2 separate regions of the Homo sapiens genome follow, and region 1 is linked to region 2. A link means that fine-mapping ties the variant in region 2 to the plasma level of a protein whose gene starts in the linked region. Region 2 holds a variant in brackets. A gene starts in the other region. All regions are shown on one strand. Distances are between the middles of the regions. Region 1 holds the start of SPESP1 (sperm equatorial segment protein 1). Region 2 overlaps LOC105370791 (a long non-coding RNA gene).

The links. A credible set is the group of variants that fine-mapping cannot tell apart. PIP is the chance, under the fine-mapping model, that this variant and not a neighbour inherited with it causes the effect. The UK Biobank Pharma Proteomics Project read protein levels with antibody pairs (Olink). The fine-mapping took linkage between variants from a reference panel, not from the people measured, so its PIPs are less certain.
Region 1: it holds the start of SPESP1, and the variant in region 2 is the best candidate, but not a certain one, in a credible set for the plasma level of the SPESP1 protein (UK Biobank, PIP 0.79).

The regions. Positions count from the first base shown.
Region 1 is chr15:68,926,576-68,936,359 of GRCh38, reverse strand. SPESP1 (sperm equatorial segment protein 1) reads right to left here and starts at 5,835. Exons shown (of 2, transcript NM_145658.4): 1 at 5,643-5,835. The coding sequence starts at 5,706. It overlaps SPESP1-NOX5 (SPESP1-NOX5 readthrough), which reads right to left and starts at 5,835. Exons shown (of 17, transcript NR_033672.2): 1 at 5,643-5,835. RefSeq lists a silencer at 8,959-9,159.
Region 2 is chr15:41,610,903-41,620,686 of GRCh38, reverse strand. It overlaps LOC105370791 (a long non-coding RNA gene), which reads left to right. Exons shown (of 4, transcript NR_188233.1): 2 at 7,953-8,152. It also overlaps the pseudogene LOC124903614. Among named protein-coding and RNA genes, the nearest start is that of MGA, 45 kb to the left of the region's middle. The variant T/G (reference allele first, on the strand shown) is at 4,980.

The DNA.
Region 1 (9,784 bases), 27 Mb before region 2:
GTGTAGATACACATACATTTCTACTTTGCCCTTGGCCAGTAGCCTTGATATGGCAACTGCTGATTGCACCCAAAATTTAATCACCAATTATGGATGCTCATTTTGTTAAAGATTTGAATATAACTAGGATTTTTATTACAATGATAGTGAAAACAAAATGGCTTTATCCATAAAGAACTCATGTATATAAAACTTAAACATATACCCAAGCATCCATCACTTATAGATGGTCCACACACTCTGGCTGAATGTCCATAACTTTGGAGAACAAATTGCTTGTATTTTCTATACATACCATGAAGTGGACTCATAAAGAATAAACTTCCCTTATTCTACAGCAGTTAAGTACTAAAGTAAGAATTAATAACTGAAAGCTGTAATAATGCAAGAACTACCAGTTAAAATATCCAACACCTTCAAATTAAAATGAACTTTTATGAAGGTTAAAATTTTAAAACGAACTGAGCTGGAGTACTGTATTTCCAACTCAAAGTAGTAATAATTGTGCTTAATTACTGAGGTGTACTCAAGGAATGGTCATAAAAGGAAATATTAAATCTTCTTATTCATCCAGCAATTTTCTTATAATTTATTATTACACAAATCTTAATTTTTGCTGACAGGTAAATAAACAAGTAATTATGTTCATATTAATCAAGTGTTCCAGTTAAAGAAATGTAACTTTATGGCTTTACACTTCCTGCTATTCATGTTCTTGGGTAGTGTCTTCTGACATTGGATATGGGCTTGCCCCATGTGACTTGTCTTGGCCTATAGGACATTAGCAAGTCTGATACAGTGTAGGCTTCGTAAGAGCATCCATGTTGGGGCTTATAAATCTCCTTCTTGGAAGCAAGCTGCCATGGTGTAAAGAAACTTGGGCTAGAGTACTGAAAGATGAGAAGTCATGTAAAGACCCTGGAGGATGAGAGGCCATCTGGGATGTTCCTATCCATTTGAACTTCCAGCTGAATGCAGCTGCATGAGTGACCTCAGCTATACCATATGAAGCAGAGCTGCCCAGCTGAGTCTAGTGAACCCATAGAATCATGAAAAATGATAAATTTGGGGAGCAGTCATTTTTGCCACAATACACAACCAAAATAGCCTTATTAAATTATGTTACAATTCTAGTGCGGATAAAGAGTTAAAAATCAAGATGCATCCTATGAGTAATGTTATAATTGAAACCAAAATAAACTCATTATTTTAAATCTTTCTCTTCTAGTTCTGTTCACTAAAATGACAAAAATAACAATATTTCCCCACTGCAGTAGTCTAGTATGTATCGCAGGCACTTTGGTCTCTCATACCATGTTCTCCATCCCCTTGGAAAGACAGTTAATTCCATTCAGAGTGAGAAAGATAGAGTGGGAAAGACACAAAGTGGGCTTGGAACAATCAGTTAACATCAGAAAACAAGAAGTCTTTAAAAATATATGGGATCCTATCAAAAGAACAAGAGAAGACAGCTTACAATGGCTCCAAATGGTCAAGGTATGAATATTTGAGGCTCGGAAAAAACTATACTTAGGTTAAATAAATTGTGTGTTTTTAAAATGCTTCAAATATATAGTGATACTAAAAAAAAAAGAAAATATTTTCTTTTCAAATAACTAGTATTTTATTTGGAGATAAAAAATGTTGCTTAAGTTTAATTTCACATATATTATCAAGAGATTAAAGTATATCCATTTAAGGGATAATATGATCAACAGAACAGAAAGACAGGACTTTTTTCCCCCATAAAACATCAATGGACAGGCTAATGAAACTTCCTGCTACTCCCCCACAGAATACTCTCTTGACACTTGCCTATTGGATGACATGCTCCTCATTATCTCAAACATTAACAAAGTGTGTCATGACAGTTTATTCACAGGTTTGAGAGACCTTTTAAATGCTGTAGCCTTGGGCACTAGCTAAGTGAACTTGCAGCACCAGAACTCAGTGAACTTTACCTTTAGAATGTATTTGAAATAAAAGAATATTCTTTTCCTCTTAATTTATTTGGTGATAGATTCAAACAATTGTTGCTGGTTGCTGCCTTATTGTTTCCCTTACCTTCTGTGGTTCATTAGGACAAAATCCTTCCTAAACACAATGACAGAAGCCAAAGACTGATACATTGAGCCTTCTTATAATACCAATCTAGAAATAAGAGCTTTTGTAATCCTAGACTAACCCTATTTTTCCTAGTCTATACCAAGAGATGATCTAGAGGAAATAATTTATTTGGGAGATACCCCAAAATTAATATTTTAATTTTATTTATACTTATTATGCAAAGTTTGAATCATTTAAAAATTAACATATATTAATATTAAATTAATATTAACACACTTTAATTTTAATTAGTTTGCACTGCCAGCCCATGAATATTTGATGACTTAAAATTTAAAAAGGCCAATTATATAATTTTAATAGTAGTTGATATTATTTAAATATGTAACTATTATGTTAATATTACTTTAGAAGTTACTGTGCTTTTTTTTTTTTTTGAGACAAGGTCTCACTCTGTCAGCCAGGCTGGAATGCAGTGGCGCCATCTCAGCTCACTGCAACCTCTACCTCCTGGGCTCAGGTGATCCTCCCACCTCAGCCTCCCGAATAGCTGGGACTACAGGCCTGCCCCACCACATCTGGCTAATTTTTGTATTTTTTGTAAAGACGGGGTTTCGCCATGTTGCCCAGCCTGGTCTTGAATTTCTGGGCTCAGGTGATCTGCCCGCCTCAGCCTCCCAAAGTGCTGGGATTACAGGTGTAAGACACCGTGCCCGGCCTGTGCATTTTTTTTTTTTTAAAGCAAAAAGAATTCTCATTAAAAAGTAAAGTAAGTTGCACAGTGCAAATACATTAAAGAGGGAATACATTAAATACTTTCCCATTCAAAAATTTAAAAATGGCAAAGTATTTAAAACTATGGAAAAATCAGGTAGAGGAAACTGAATGTATAAAAATTTTATATAGTAAAACGTTGTTTCTCCAGCACCATCAGGATGTGTGTGTGTGTATGTAAAGGAGTGCCGACTTCTGTATACCCAAGCTGCATTTATGTCTAACTGAATTTAGATTAAACAAATACTAGCTAAGCTTGGATTGGGCCTGTTAGAAAGGTATAGGCAGATACAAGAAGTACTGAGGTTTTCAATAAATGCAATTACTTAATACACCCGTGATGTTTGCGTAATAACCTCAAAACTGTCTAGTAGTCTAGAAAAAATGTGTCAAAGCTGCACTTTTCATTATAAAAACCTATGTACCTTATCTTTTGCATCTCGCCAACAATTGTTTGAATAGTGGCCATATAAAAGAATGCATAGCTGATTTACATCAAGCTCAATGATATACGCATTTTGGTATACTTATTTTAAAAACAAAATTAAAATTAGAGAAAAAGTAGAGAGACAGATACAGAGAAAGCAGCCATGTACCACTGCCTGCTCTATATATTCCTTAATCCACTTCTGTAGAAGAAAGGTAATTACATATTCCAAGACATCTTCTATGATTACAACCTGTATATAGTTTCCTTATGTCTTATAACATCTATATATTCAACACAAAATCACTCCTTTTTTCTGGGAAGCGTCTTTTCATTTCCTACAACCCTTTTCTTTCTTCCCAAGAAAGATTAGGGAATAGGGTGCTAAGAAAGACAACAGGCTGGCTGGGCACAGTGGCTCAAGCCTGTAATCCCAGCACTTTGCAAGGCCGAGGCGGATGGATCATTTGAGGTCAGGAGCTCGAGACCAGCCTGGCCAACATGGTGAAACCCCGTCTCTACTAGAAATACAAAAATTAGCCAGGCGGTAGTGGCGTGCGCCTATAATCCCAGCTACTCAGGAGGCTGAGGTGGGAGAATCCCTCGAGCCTGGGAGGCAGAGGTTGCGGTGAGCCGAGATCGGGCCACTGCACTCTAGTCTGAGCTAGAGAGTGAGACCCTGTCTCAGGCAAAAAAAAAAGGGGGGGAAAAGGGAAGGGGAGGGGGAGGGGAAAATTATGGTGTTAGGCAAGAGACTGCACTGAGTTAAGTGGGTGTCCAGGGACTCCTACCTAGCAGTCCCAGAGTGTACTGTGTGACAGTGTTAAAGTCACTTCAGTTAAAGTCTCCATATATGTTAGTCACTTGTGACTTGCTGATCTACAACTACCAAAATGCAATAACTGGTGTTAGTAATAATGATCATCAGACATCAAGAAAAGATAGTAGCATCTTCATTATGTTCTGGTCCTCTATGTCAAGGAAGAAAAATTTTACAAAACTTTTTATTAAAAACAGCTACAAATCATAAATGCTAGTATTTAAAGAGCTAACTTTAGTTACCTAGAACTTCATCTAGAACTTTTCCCATTACTATTCATAATTTAGATTGTGTTGTATTTTCAGTTTTTAAATTTGATTTTTAACTAAGATCGTTTAGCAATTCTGAAAAATAGATTTGCATAATCAGCATGCACGATAGCGCTTTTTTTACACCTGTTAAATTGTATTTATTGATTTAAGTGAAACCAAACTCCAACATTACTAAATGCCACAATGAACTACAGTTAGACTAAATGGGGAAGCCTCACCTACCTGACTTAAATACTAAGTGCCTTAAGGTGCCCACATGATATTGTTAATATAGTAAAGTCTTAGCACCCCTGAATTTGACCTTATTGGTTTTCAGCTTTCGGGGAGGGACAAAAATTGCTCCTTGGCAGGTCTTAAGTTATAATCCTGCTTAACTAAGGCTTTGAATGCCGTGTGCGCAAGCATGCTCTCTGGGAGCGCATCCTCAGGTGAGTGTCCCAGACCGCGACCCACAATCCACATGCTCTCCAAATTTTACCGTACGGGTCAACCTTTTTTTCTGTACAGGGCCAGAGAGTAAATACTTCAGTCTTTGCAGACCAGACTGTGTGGCAACCACTTAACCCCGTTGTTCTAACGTGGGAAAGCAGCCATGGGCAATACGTAAAGGAATGAGCGTGGTGGTGTGCCAGTAAAACTTTATTCACGAACAATGAAATGTGAGCGTCATGCTTTTCCACAAGTCATGAAAGAGTACATTTCATATTTACTTTGAAAATGCAAAAATAGAACATCACACACCAGGGCCTGCCGTGGGGTGGGGGGAGGGGGGAGGGATAGCATTAGGAGATATACCTAATGTAAATGACAAGTTATGGGTGCAGCACACCAATATGGCACATGGATACATATGTAACAAACCTGCACGCTGTGCACATGTACCCTAGAACTTAAAGTATAATAATTAAAAAAAAAGGAAGAAAATGTAAAAATCATTCCTAGCTGGCCAGCAGCTGTCACACGACCCCTGCACGGTCACACGCCCAATGGCTGGGGAAGGATCGGGTGGGCAGAGGAAGGCCTCCGGTGAGGTGAGGGGGTTCCACCCGCGCCCACGGCCCGCAGGCGCTTCCCGTCTCATCTGGGCCGCGCCGCCTCAGTTGCTGCGTTCCCTGACCAGGAGAGGAGAGGGACACCCCTCGGCGTCGAGGCCAGGACCCCGGACAGTGGGGGAGGGAGGCATGTAGGACCAGGGAGAAGGAAGGGCCAGGCTTCGAGGTCGCGGAGCTCGGGAAGTTCCCCCAGGGTGTCCCCGGTCCGCTGCCTCCTCAGGCCCGTCACTCACTCGGATAAGCCGGCACAGACGAAGGCCATAGCAAAAGCGCAACTAGAAGGACTAAGGGCTTCATAGGCGTCGTCCGTAGCACTCTGCCATGCGACCGGAACGTCCTGGGGCCACCAGGCTGGGAACCTCAAGGCCGAAAGGGAAGGTGTCAGCGGAGTACCGTCCTGCCTCAGGCCCTGGGACACCCAGCAACGGTTGTCCCCAGCGCGCAAGCGCAGCGGCATGGGGGAGGGGAGAGCGAGCGGCCAAGGCCCGCCCCTCCTGGGACCGCGTGCAGGGGGCGGGGGATCGCGCGCGCCCCGCCCCGCCCCTTCCTAGTGCGCATGCTCGCTCCGCCTTCGTAGGTCCGCGCCTGGTGTGGGCTGGGAACGCCTCGACGCCCGGCTACTGCGTGCGGGGTGCTGCCTCGGGGCGTGCGGGGCTCGGCCCATCCTGCGCGGTAGGGATACCGCCGTGGTTTAAACGCGGTCCCTGTGAGGAAGGAACTGTAATGGGAGAGGCAGATAACCTGGCAATTACCACAGCGTGAAAGGGGGCTGTAGTGGGGGAAGCGCTAGGTACTGTTGTGCACAGTGGAAACCCACCCCCGGAAGCGGGTGGGGAGCTTGGCTAAGTGGAGGACAGCTTGGAGCACCCCAAGAACTGAGCATAGTTCCGGCGAGTTGCATTGTGGGGCTTGGGAGGGCAGTTGTTGGAGGACAGGGAGGAGAGGTAGGCAAGGGCATTAAAAACGCCCTAAGGGGCTTGGGTGTTTTTGTTTTTCAAAAGATCACATTCCATTTCTTTGACCTTCTTAAAAAGATAGGGGTAGGGATGAGGGAGAGTACGACTATGAAAGGATAGCATGAGGTTGTTTTGGGGACTAATAGATGGCAGTGGCCACAAGAATCTATACATGTGTTAAAATTCACAGAAGGCCGGGCACGGTGGCTCACTCCTGTAATCCCAGCACTTTGGGAGGCCGAGGTGGGCGGACCACCTGAGGTCAGGAGTTCGAGACCAGCCTGACCAACATAGTGAAACTTCGTGGCTACTAAAAATACAAAATTAGCCAGGCGTGGGTGGTGGCACACGCCTGTAGTCCCAGCTACTTGGGAGACTGAGGCAGGAGAATCACTTGAACCCGGGAAGCAGAGGTTGCAGTGAGCCGAGATCGTGCCACTGCACTCCAGCCTGGGCGACAGAGCAAGACTCCACCTCAAAAAAATAAATAAAAATAAAAATTCGCAGAACTGCACATCCCAAAGAATCTGTTTTTCTGTATGGTTATTTTTAAAAATTCACGTACACTCATCTCTGCCTCAGGAAGCAAGGGGCTTGGATTTTAGTCTGAGGCACCAGTACTAGAGTACTGCTAGGTTTTGAGCTGGGAACGGTTGTGATTAGATTTGTATTCCAGAAAACTCACTCTTCCTGTAGCATGAAGAATGGACTGGAGGGAAGCAAGACTAGAGGCGCCGGCGGAAACTGAGACTGCGCACGGCGCTTGCGGGCCAGCCCGAGTTCCGGGTGGGCGTGGGCTCGGCGGGCTCGGTGGGCCCGGCACTCAGCGCGGCCGGCCGTCCCCGCTGGCCACGGGCAGTTGGGGGGAGCTTAGCACCTGGGCCAGGAGCTGCTGTGCTCGATTTCTCGCCAGGCCTTAGCTGCCTCCCCGCAGGGCAGGGCTCGGGACCTGCAGCCTGCCATGCCTGAGCCTCCCTGAGGAGCGCCGCTCCCTGCTCCACGGCGCCCAGTCCCATCGACCGCCCAAGGGCTGAGGAGTGCGGGCGCAGGGCCGGGGACTGGCAGGCAGCTCCACCTGCGCCTGGGTGTGGGATCCACTGGGTGAAGCCAGCTGGGCTCCTGAGTCTGGTGGGGACTTGGAGAACCTTTATGTCTAGCTAAGGGATTGTGAATGCACCAATGGGCACTCTGTGTCTAGCTCAAGGTTTGTAAATGCACCAATCAGCACCCCGTGTCTAGCTAATCTAGTGGGGACTTGGAGAACTTTTGTGTCTAGCTCAGGGATTGTAAATGCACCAATCAGCACCCTGTCAAAACGGACCAATCAGCTCTCTGTAAAGTGAACCAATCAGCAGGATGTGGGTGGGGCCAGATAAGGGAATAAAAGCAGGCTGCCCGAGCCAGCAGTAGTAACCCTATGGAGTCTCTTTCTGTCGTGTGGAAGGTTTGTTCTTTCGCTTTTTGCAATAACTCTTGCTGCTGTTTACTCTGGGCCCACACTGCCTTTATAAGCTGTAACACTCGCTGCGAAGGTCTGCCGCTTCACTCCTGAAGCCAGTGAGACCACGAACCCACCGGGATGAATGAACAACTCAGATGGGCCACCATAAGAGCTGTAACACTCACCATGAGGGTCTACAGCTTCACTCCTGGTCCAGCTAGACCACGAATCCACCAGAAGGAAGAAACTCCAAACACATCCGAACATCAGAAGGAACAAATTCCGGACATGCTGCCTTTAAGAACTGTGACACTCACCACGAGGATCCACGGCTTCATTCTTTAAGTTAGACCAAGAACCCACCAATTCCGGACACATGTTGAGGAACCAATGTCTCCAGCCAACAGCCAGTAAGGACCTGAGGCCTGACAACAATCAGGTGAGTGAACTTGGTAATAGATTCTCCCCAGGTGAGCCTGGAGTTGACCACAGCCCGGCTGACATCTTGATTGTAGCTGCCTGAGAAACCCAGAGATGGAGGCACCCAGCTAAGCCACGCTTAGATTCCTGACTCACAGAAACTGTAAGACAGTAAGTGCTTGTTAAATGGAGGAGGAGAAAGCATTTGCGTAAGCAATAGCTACATACAAGGGTCTCTGTTGATTTGTTCCTTGAAAGAGACCATGCTTGGAAAGGCACCTGCAGTTGGGTACACTACTTAATTGAGTTAATAATTGTCAGTCATTCTTCCAGGTCCATCTGTTTTCATTACCAGTCAAGCTGGAAGGCAGGTATAAATTAAGATAATTGATTCAGATATTTTAGGGTGACACTATAGCTAGTCAACAAGGGATTGTTATAACTTGTGCATTACTATTTTGATTGGGGGTTGGAGAGTGTAATAAAGCTCTGTGGATTCTTCATAGTCTTTTCTATCTTGCTCACCCTTGTTCTAAAGGTTAGGAAACCAATGTGAAGATTCTGCCTTATGTCCTTTAAATGTACACTCAGGAATTGGGGAAAAAACACTGGAAGGGTTTAGGGTTCCATCGAACTTACTGTAAGGTGGACTTGGGTTAAAATTCCTTTAATTACTTCACCCCTGTAAACCCCACTCTAACCAGTGAACTACTGTGGCATACTGCGATTTTCCTTTTTTTTCAGTGCATATTTATCCCTAGATGATCACTGGTCCCTTTGGAGAAGGCTAGGAGTTAAGAATCACAGCACATACTTATCTCATTGTATTACTACTGAATTCGTCAAGGGTTTCCTGCTTTCCCTTCACTTAGGAGACTGGATTTGTGAAACACACTGCAGTTTGGGGATTGAATGAGGAACTGCAAGTGAGAGGTTCAAGTAGGATGTCTTTTAGGCCCAGAGTTGGAGTCGTTTTTCCCTTGTTTGGTTATAAAAACCCCAATAAGACTTTAGCAGTTTTCATCTTGTTAACCATTAAAAAGGAAACGGTGAAATAGCCAAGGTATATCCTAATTGTGGAATTCCAGTTTAAAAAAAAAAATGTTGTAGCTCTGTACTCCATGGTCTATGTGCTAACATATAAAATTCTCTAAAATATGGTGTTGAGTAAAAAAGTTCAGAAAAACACATATATCCACTTATGCAAAATTACACCAGTTACATATTTCCATGAATTCATCTGAAATCATTCTGGAAGGAAACACAGTAAGCTGATAATAGTGCTTACTTCCAGAAAGAGAAATGAGATTGGAGGAGAACAGGGGATTTTGAAGGGAGAATTTTGCTTTTTACTTTTTCTTATCCCTTGAATTTTTTGAAGCAAGATTACTCATGTAATTAAAAATAGAAACAGTAACTTTTTACAAAATCTAGTGAAGAAAGGAGGGCTAGTGGTAGAAATGTCTTATTATGCCTCATGTTTTCCTTTACTGACTTCACTGAAATATTTTTGAAGTGGCTAATTCACTACCCAGAGAAAAGTAGCCTGCATTTCTGC
Region 2 (9,784 bases):
TGCTGGTTCCACCTCGTACGAAATATGGTATATTGGAAACGAGAAAAAAAAAAAAACACCGTCTCCTAACTCAGAAAAAGTGGTCATGCATCAGAACCAATTAACTTTGTAACATATTCACAAACTGCCCTTCAGGCCAAAACCTAATGAAATCCCCACTTAAAACAATTCACACCTTTTCTGCTTTGAACTCCATTCTTCAGCTTTGCCGGATTTTAGAACGATTTCATCAATTCTTAAAGAGATGATTAAGCTTGAAGAACTTGACTAGCGATGGTCAAGCTCAAGAGCTCTTATTTATAGATTAAAAATTAAATGTATTCATTTATAATGTGGTTATCAAGCCAAAATATAGTTTGGGGCACCCTTTTCTAATTTCAAGGTACTCCATAAGCCTAATTATCAGAAAATTATTCCCTGACTAGAAAACCAAAAGAAAGGGTATTAGATGATCATACGTAATAAAAAGCATTAAATTGTAAGCATATGATGTTACACTTGAAGTTTATAAAACATTCCAATATTCTTCATTATATATAATCCTTACAACAACTCAGAGAAAAGTGCTATACTAGTAGTATCATTTTCTGAGTCAGTCTTGAGTGGGAATCTGGAAAAATATATCTTAACACGTTCTTCAGGTAATTGTTATGCACAACTGGGTTTGGGACCTATTGGCTATAGTGGAAAGAACCCAAGGTTTGAAGTCAGACAGATCCATGTCAACTTGCAGCTCTTTTTCTTCCTGCACTCTGATTGTGGTGAACAGGTTTTTGAACTTTTTTTTTTTTTTTTTTTTTTTGAGACCGAGTCTCTGTTGCCCAGGCTAGATTACAAAGGCGTGATCTCAGCTCACTGCAACCTCCATCTCCCGGGTTCAGGCGATTCTGGTGTCTCATCCTCCTGAGTAGCTGGGATTATAGGCGCCTGCTACCATGCCTGGCAATTTTTGTATTTTTAGTAGAGATGGGGTTTCATTCACCATATTGGCCAGGATGGTCTCGAACTTCCGACCTCAGGTGATCTGCCTGCCTAGGCTTCCCAAAATGCTGGGATTACTGGCGTGAGCCACCACGCCTGCCCGTTTTTGAACTTTTTGATTTTCAGTTCCTTTGACTGCAAATTGAGGCCAGTTTGGATTGTCTTTGTTTTTTTGTTTTTTTGTTTTTTTGTTTGTTTGTTTGCTTTTTAGACAGAGTCTCACTCTCTTGCCCAGGCTGGAGTGCAATGGTGCAATCTCGTCTCACTGCAACCTCCGCCTCCTGGGTTCAAACAATTCTCCTGCCTCAGCCTCCAGAGTAGCTGGGATTACAGGCGCACACCACGTCGCCTGGCTAATTTTTATTTTTAGTAGAGACAGGGTTTCACCATGTTGGCCAGGCTGGTCTCGAACTCCTGACCTCATGATCCGCCCGCCTCGGCCTCCCAAAGTGCTGGGATTACAAGCGTGAGCCACTGTACCTGGCTTGTGTGTGTGTGTGTGTGTGTGTGTGTGTGTGTGTGTGTGTTTTGAGATGGAGTTTCACTCTGGTTGCCCAGGCTGGAGTGCAATGGCGCAGTCACAGCTCACTGCAACCTCCGACTCCCGGGTTCAAGGGATTCTCCTTTGTCAGCTTCCCAAGTAGTTGGGATTACAGGCATGAGCTACCACGCCCGGCCTGGATTGTCTTTGGATTGTCATAATGATTCTCAGATCAAAATATTTAGAACACCTGTCATAATCCCTGATAAATATGATGAACTCTATGAATGTGAGTGCTCGTTAGTGGTAAGGTTGCATTCAAACTAGCACCCTGTACTCTGTGCAATACAGCACATTGTTGAATCTTTTTTCTCCACTATTCTGTTTCTCCCCTAGACAGTGCTAGAGGAACACTAACAGATTCGTGTACCACAGATCTTTTTTGGAATCCTTGGTGACTACTGCCCATCTGTTGGTATATATATTTACATTGTCTCCCACCTTCATTTCATTTTTTTTCTTAACATGTTAAAATGCTGAGCTGTAGACATTATTGCAGTAAAATAATGCTGATAGACGATTAGAGAGGGCACCTGTGCCTGAACTTCAAGGAGACTAAAAATTTTTATATGAATATCTCAAAGTAAAGACACCTCAAAACTCGCTCTTCACTTATATAACAATATTTCGGATGCTGTCTTCCTGGCCTCCTTCCAGTGGTTCCATAGAACCTCTACTAGCTTCATCATTTACCCTTAAAAAAGGGAGGGATTCGCTTAGGCAGAACTTCCCATAGACATCTGAAACTCAGCATTTCCAAAGCCAAGCTAATTATCCGTCCCTTCACCACTACACACAAGTACTACAGCATTCCTCTACATGGGTAGTATCACCACCATTCCAGTAACTTTGCCAGGCTACAAAACCTGTGTGAACCCGGGAGGCGGACCTTGCAGTGAGCTGAGATGGTGCCACTGCACTCCAGCCTGGGCGACAGAGCGAGACTCCATCTCAAAATAAATAAATAAATAAATAAATAAATAAATAAATAAATAAATAAAATAAATAAAAATTAAAAAATCTGTGTATGGTGTGAGGTAGGGGTTGAGATTCATTTATTTCATAATGATGTCAAGTTGATCCAACACTGTTTGTTGAACATTATTTTCCCTCTTTGAAGTACCTTGACATCTGTATTAGTTGTCTGTTACTGTATAACAAATTACCTCTAAAATTTAGCAGCTTAAAACAACAAATACTTATTACCTCATTGTTTTTGTGGTTAAGGAATCTGGGCACAGCATACCAGGTTGCCAGTGGCTCAGAGTGTCTCAAGAGGTTCCAGTCAAGCTGTTGGCCAGGGTTGTAGTCTCAACTGAAGGCTTGACTCAACGTGAGGGGAGTCTGCTTCCAAGCTCCTTTGTGCTTCTTGGCAGGCCTTGGTTCCCTGCCCCATAGGCCTCTCCACAGGCCTACCTTACAACATGGCAGCTAGCTTTACTGATAGTAAACAATCCAAGAGAGATACAGTTACCCCAAAATGTAAGCCATAGTCTCTTTTAAACCTAACTCTAGTAGTGACATCCTCTGACACCTATCAGCCCACACTCAAGAGAGATTACATATGGATGTGAATACCTGGAGGTAGGAATCATGATATTCAATGCCACGTAATCTCTATTGAGTGTGACCTGATAGATTAGGGTCCATCATTAGAGGCTGGTCCATCATAACACCTTTGTCAAAAATCAATTGTCTATATATGTTTGGGTCTATTTCTAGGTTGTATTCTGTTCAACTGACCTAATTTGTCCATTTACTACTGCTATGCTGCCTTAATTTCTGTAACTATAATATGTCTTGAGGTCGGTAGTATAGGTCCTTCAACTTATCTTTTTCAAAACTGTTTTGGCTATTCCAGGCTGCAATGCAGTGGCATGAACATGGCTCACTGCAGCCTGGACCTTGCAGGCTGAAGGAATCCTTCCACCTCAGCCTCCCAAGTAGCTAGGGTTATGCACCACCACACCTGGCTAATTTTTGAAGTTTTTTTATGGAGACAGGAGTCTCACCATGTTGCCCAGGCTAGTCTCAAACTCCTAGGCTCAAGCAATCCTCCTGCCTTGACCTTCTAAATTGCTGAGATTACAGGCGTGAGCCACTGCACTTGGCCCTTGCATTTTCATGTAAATTTTAGAATTGGCTCATCAACTTCTATGAAAATTAGGATTTTTAGTGGAATGGCATTGGATCTATAGATCAATTCATGAATAATTAATATTTTAATATTGAGACTTCTGAGTCATTAACATGTAGTCACAATACATATATCTAACAAAGGACAAAAATCCACAATATATTAAGAACCCTGTAATAGGCCAGGTGCGGTGGCTCACACCTGTAATCCCAGCAATTTGGGAGGCCGAGGCAGGTGGTCACCTGAGGTCAGGAGTTCGAGACCAGCCTGGCCAACATGGTGAAATCCCCTCTCTACTAAAAATACAGGAAAATGGCCAGGTGCAGTGGCTCACGCCTATAATCCCAGCACTTTGGGAGGCCGAGGCAGGTGGATCTCCTGAGGTCAGGAGTTCAAGACCAGTCTGGCCAACCTGGTGAAACCCGGTCTCTACTAAAAATACAAAAATTAGCTGGGCATGTTGGCAAGCACCTGTAATCCCAGCTACTCTGGAGGCTGAGGCAGGAGAATCTCTTGAACCCGGGAGGCGGAGGTTGCAGTGAGCCAAGATTGCGCCATTGCACTCCAGCCTGGGGGACAAGAGTGAGACTTCCTCTAAAACAAAAAAAAAAAACAACAACAACAACAAGAAAAACTAGCCGGGCGTGGTGGCAGGAGCCTATAATCCCAGTTACAAGAGAGGCTGAGCAGGAGAATCACTCAAACCTGGGAGGCAGAGGTTGCAATGATCTGAGATCGTGCCACTGCACTCCAGCCTGGGCGACAGTGAGACTCTGTCTTAAAAAAAATAAATAAATAAAAAACCCTGTAATAATAATAAAACAAAAATCCAATTTTTTTTTTTTTTTTGGAGACAGGGTTTCACTCTGTCACCCAGGCTGGAGGGCAGTTGCAAGATCACAGCTGCTTAGCTCACTGCAGCCTCAACCTCCTGGGCTCAAGTAATCCTCCCACCTCAGCCTCCCACTTACTAGGGAGTAAGTGGGACTACAGGCATGCAGCACCACCCCGGCTAATTTTTTGTATTTTTTGTAGAGATAGGGTTTGGCCATGTTGCCCAGGCTGACCAATATATTTTTCTCATTTTTTTTTCTTTTTTTCAGACAGATTCTTGCTCTGTCACCCAGGCTGGAGTGCAGTGGCACAATCTCGGCTTACTGCAACCTCTGCTTCCCAGATTCAAGCGATTCTCCTGCCTCAGCCTCCCTAGTAGCTGGGATTACAGGCTCCTGCTACCACGCCTGGCTAATTTTTGTATTTTTAGTAGAGACAGGGGTTTCACCTTGTTGGTCAGGCTGGTCTCGAACTCCTGCCTTCAGG[T/G]TGATCCACCTGTCTCTGCCTCCCAAAGTTCTGAGATTATAGGCATGAGCCACCACACCCAGCCCACAGGCCTTTTTTTCTTTTTCTTTTTCTTTTTTTTTTTCAGATGGAGTCTCGCTCTGTCACCCATGCTGGAGTGCAGTGGTGCGATCTCAGCTCACTGCAACCTCTGCCTCCTGGGTTCAAGAGATTCTCCTGCCTCAGCCTCCTGAGTAGCTGGGACTACAGGCGTGTGCCACTCCACCTGGCTAATTTTTTGTATTTTTAGTAGAGACAGGGTTTCACCATGTTAGCCAGGATGGTTTTGATCTCCTGACCTGATGATCCACCTGCCTCGGCCTCCCAAAGTTCTGGGATTACAGGCATGAGTCACTGCGCCTGGCCCCCTTTTTGTCTTATTATATATTTTGCTCTACGTATTCAGAGAAACTTCTCTAGTAACAAACTATAGAAATGATTCCTGAAAGTGTAGTCTTGGCCAATATATATATTTTTTTAAAGAATTCAATTGGCTTTATTGCAGTTTTGTTTTTTGAGTTTTTTGGTTTTGTTTTTTTTTTTTTTGAGAGACGGAATTTCGTTCTTGTTGCCCAGGCTGGAGTGCAATGGCACGATCTCAGCTCACCGCAATCTCCACTTCCGAGGTTCAAGCGATTCTCCTGCTTCAGCCTCCCTAGTAGCTGGGATTACAGGCATGTGCCACCACGCCAGGCTAATTTTATATTTTTAGTAGAGACAGGGTTTCTCCATGTTGGTCAGGCTGGTCTCGAACTCCTGATCTCAGGTGATCCGCCCGCTTCGGCCTCCCAAAGTGCTGGGATTACAGGCATGAGCCACCATGCCCAGCCTGTTGCAGTTCTAGAATCAGGAAATAATTCATTCCATAAAACAGAAAGTGTTCAATGGCCAATATTTTTTAAATGAGTAAACGAACTGACATTTTACCAAAGAAAATCTACAAGTGGTCAATAAACATATGAAACATGCATAACACCACCAGTTATTAGGGAAATACAAATTAAAACCACAAAGAGATACCAGTTCACATCCTCTACAATGTCTAAAATTAACAAGACTGACAAGGTCAGACGTGGTGGCTCATGCCTATAATTCCAGCACTTTGGGAGGCCAATGCGGACAAATCACCTGAGGTCAGGAGGTCGAGACCAACCTGGCCAACATGGTAAAACCCCGTCTCTACTAAAAATACAAAAGTTAGCCAGGTGTGGTGGTGGGCACCTATAATCCCAGCTACAGAGGCTGAGGCAGGAGAATCACTTGAACCCAGGAGGCGGAGGTTGCAGTGAGCCAAGATTACACCATTGCACTCCAGCCTGGGCAACAAGAGCAAGACTCCATCTCAAAAATAAATAAATAAATAATAAAAAGACTGACAATAACAAGTGTTGGCTAGGATTTGTAGCAACTAAAACTCTCATACATTGCTGCTGGGAGTATAAACTGCTACAATTCGGCCTAGGCAACATAGTGAGACCCCATCTCTACAAAAAAATTTAAAAATTAGCCAGGAGTGGTGGTGTGCACCTGTGATCCCAGCTACTTGGGAGGCTGAAGTCGAAGGATCTCTTGAGCCTAGGAGATTCAGGCTGCAGTGAGGTAGGATTGCACTGCTTTACTTCATCCTAGACAACAGAGTGAAAGCCCATCTCTATTAAAAAATCGTACAATTGGTCAGACGCAGTGACTCACACCTGTAATCCCAGCACTTTGGGAGGGTGAGGCGGGTGGATCACCAGAGGTCAGGAGTTCGAGACCAGCCTGGTCAACATGGCAAAACCTTGTCTCTACTAAAAAATACAAAAATTAGCCAGGCGTGATGGCAGGCGCCTATAATCCCAGCTACTCAGGAGGCTGAGGCAGGAGAATCACTTGCACCCGGGGGAAAGAGTTTGCAGTGAGCCAAGATCACGCCACTTTATTCCAGCCTGGATGAAAAGCAAAACTCCATCAAAAAAAAAAAAAAAGAAAAGGGTACAACCCTTTGGATAACAGCTTGACAATTGTTTATAAATTTAACATATACTTACTCTATCACCTAGCAATTTAACTCCTAGGTATTTACTCAAGAGAAATGAAAACATATATCCACAAAAAACTTTGTATCTTTCTTTGAGACAGAGTCTCACTCTGTTGCCCAGGCTGGAATGCGGTAGCGTGATCACAGCTCATTGCACTCTCAACCTCCAGGATCAAGCAATCCTCCAGCCTCAGCCTCCCAAGTAGCTGTGACTACAGGTGTGCGCCACCACATCCAGCTAAAATTTCTTTTATTTTTAGTAGAGACAAGGTATTGCTATGTTGCTCAGACTGGTCTGGAACTCCTGAGCTCAAACAATACACCCACCTCGGCCTCCCAAAATGCTAGGATTACAGGCCTGGGCCACTGTGCCCAGCACACAAAAAACTATTGTATTAAAAATTTTATAACAGCTTTATTCATAATAACCAAAAACTAGAAACAACTCAAATGTCCATCAACAGATAAATAAGTAAACAAATTGATTATCAATGGACTATATTCAGCAATAAAAAAAAGAATGGAGTTCTGGAGTTTGTCAATAAAAAGGAATGAACTGCTGATATATCAACAATATAGTTGAATGGCTGGGTGCAGTGGCTCAGGCCTGTAATCCCAACACTTTGGGAGGCTGAGGTGGAAGTATCACTTGAGCCCAGGAGTTCAAGACCAACCTGGGCAACATAGTGAAACCCCCCAGCCATCTCTATTTAAAAAAAAAAAAAAGGAAAAAACAATATAGATGAATCTCAAAACACATAATAAGCAAAAAAAGCCAGACATATATTAAAACACAGTGTATGATTCCATTCTGTAGGACATTCTAGAACAGACAAAATTAATCTATGATGTGGTGGAATAAAGATGGCCCATCTTTGTCACTCTCCCCACTGAAAAGTGGAATTTATTTTTCCATCCCCTTGAATTTCTTCTAGGCTCATGCCTGCTTTGGTCAGTAGAATACAGCTGAAGTGATGTTGTACCAGTTTTGCGTCTGGTCTTTACAAGCACTGGTAGCTTCAACTTTCTCCTTCTTGGTACTCACCCACCATGTTGTAAGGAAACCCAAACAGCCACGTGGAAGACAGTTCTAGTTGAGCTCCCAGCCCAGAGCCTATCCCAACTCTCCAGCCATGTAAGTGAAGTGAATTCTCCAGCCCCAGTCAAGCTACCCCAGGTGACCCACAAAGCAGACAAATTGATTCCACTAAACCATGACCAAATTGCAAAATCATGAGCAAATAAATGATTTTTATTCTTTTTTTTTTTTTTTTTTTTTTGAGACAGAGTCTCGCGCCGCCCAGGCTAGAGTGCAATGGCGCGATCTCAGCTCACTGCAACCTCCACCTCTTGGGTTCAAACGATTGTCCTCCCTCAGCCTCCCGAGTAGCTGGGATTACAGGCGCCTGCCACCACGCCCAGCTAATTTTTGTATTTTTAATAGAGACAGGGTTTCGCCACGTTGGCCAGGCTGGTCTTGAAGTCCTGACCTCGTGTTCCACCCACCTCGGCCTCCCAAAGTGCTGGGATCATAGGCATGAGCTACCGCGCCCAGCCAATGATTTTTATTCTTTTAAGCCACTGGGTTTTGGGGTGACAAAACGATCTACAGATACAACAATCTATAACCAAAACATACGGGAGTAGAAATCACAACAATATTACCTGTGGGAAGAGGCAGAATCAACGACAAAGGGGCACAAGAGGACTTAGAGGTGACAGAAATGTTCTGTATCAGCTAGGCACAGTGGCTCACACCTGTAATCCCAGCATTTTGGGAGGCTGAGGCTGGAGGATCACATAAGCCCAGGGGTCTGAGACCAGACTGGATGACATAGTGAGACCTCATCTCTGCAAAAAATAAAATTAGCTGGGTGTGGTGGCACACACCTGTAGTCCCAGCTACTGGGGAGGCTAAGGTGGGAGGATAACTTGAATCCAGGAGGTTGAGGCTACAGTGAGCTGAGATCATACCACTGCACCCCAGCCTGGGCAACACAGTTAGACCCTGTCTCAAAAAAAAAAAAGGTTATCTATCTTGATTAGGGTAATGGTTATACAAATGTATGCATTTATCAAAACTCTGAACTGTATACTTAAAATCTATATATTATATTGTATGTAAATTATGCCTTAATGAAGTTGATTTTTTAAAAAAGGCCAGGCGTGCGCGGTTGCTCTCACCTGTAATCCCAGCACTTTGGGAGGCGAGGCGGTTGGATCATGAGGTCAGGAGATTGAGACCATCTGGCTAACACGGTGAAACCCCGTGTCTACTAAAAATACAAAAAAATTAGCCGGGCATGGTGGCGGGCGCCTGTAGTCCCAGCTACTCGGAGGCTAAGGCAGGAGAATGGTGTGAACCCGGGAGGCGGAGCTGGCAGTGAGCCGAGATCGCGCCACTGCACTCCAGCCTGGAGGACAGAGCGAGACTCCGTCTCAAAAAAAAAAAAGGCCAGGCGCGGTGGCTCACGCCTGTAATCCCAACACTTTGGGAGGCCGAGGCGAGCGGATCACGAGGTCAGGAATTCAAGACACATCTGGTCAACATAGTGAAACCCCGTCTCTACTAAAAATACAAAAAATTAGCCGGGTGTGGTGGTGTGCGCCTGTAATCTCAGCTACTCGGGAGCCTGAGTCAGGAGAATCGTGTGAACCGGGAAGGCGGAGGTCGCAGTGAGCCGAGATCGCGCCTTTGCACTCCAGCCCGGGGCGACAGTGCGAGACTCTGTCTCAAAAAAACAAATCAACCAACCAACCTTTGGTG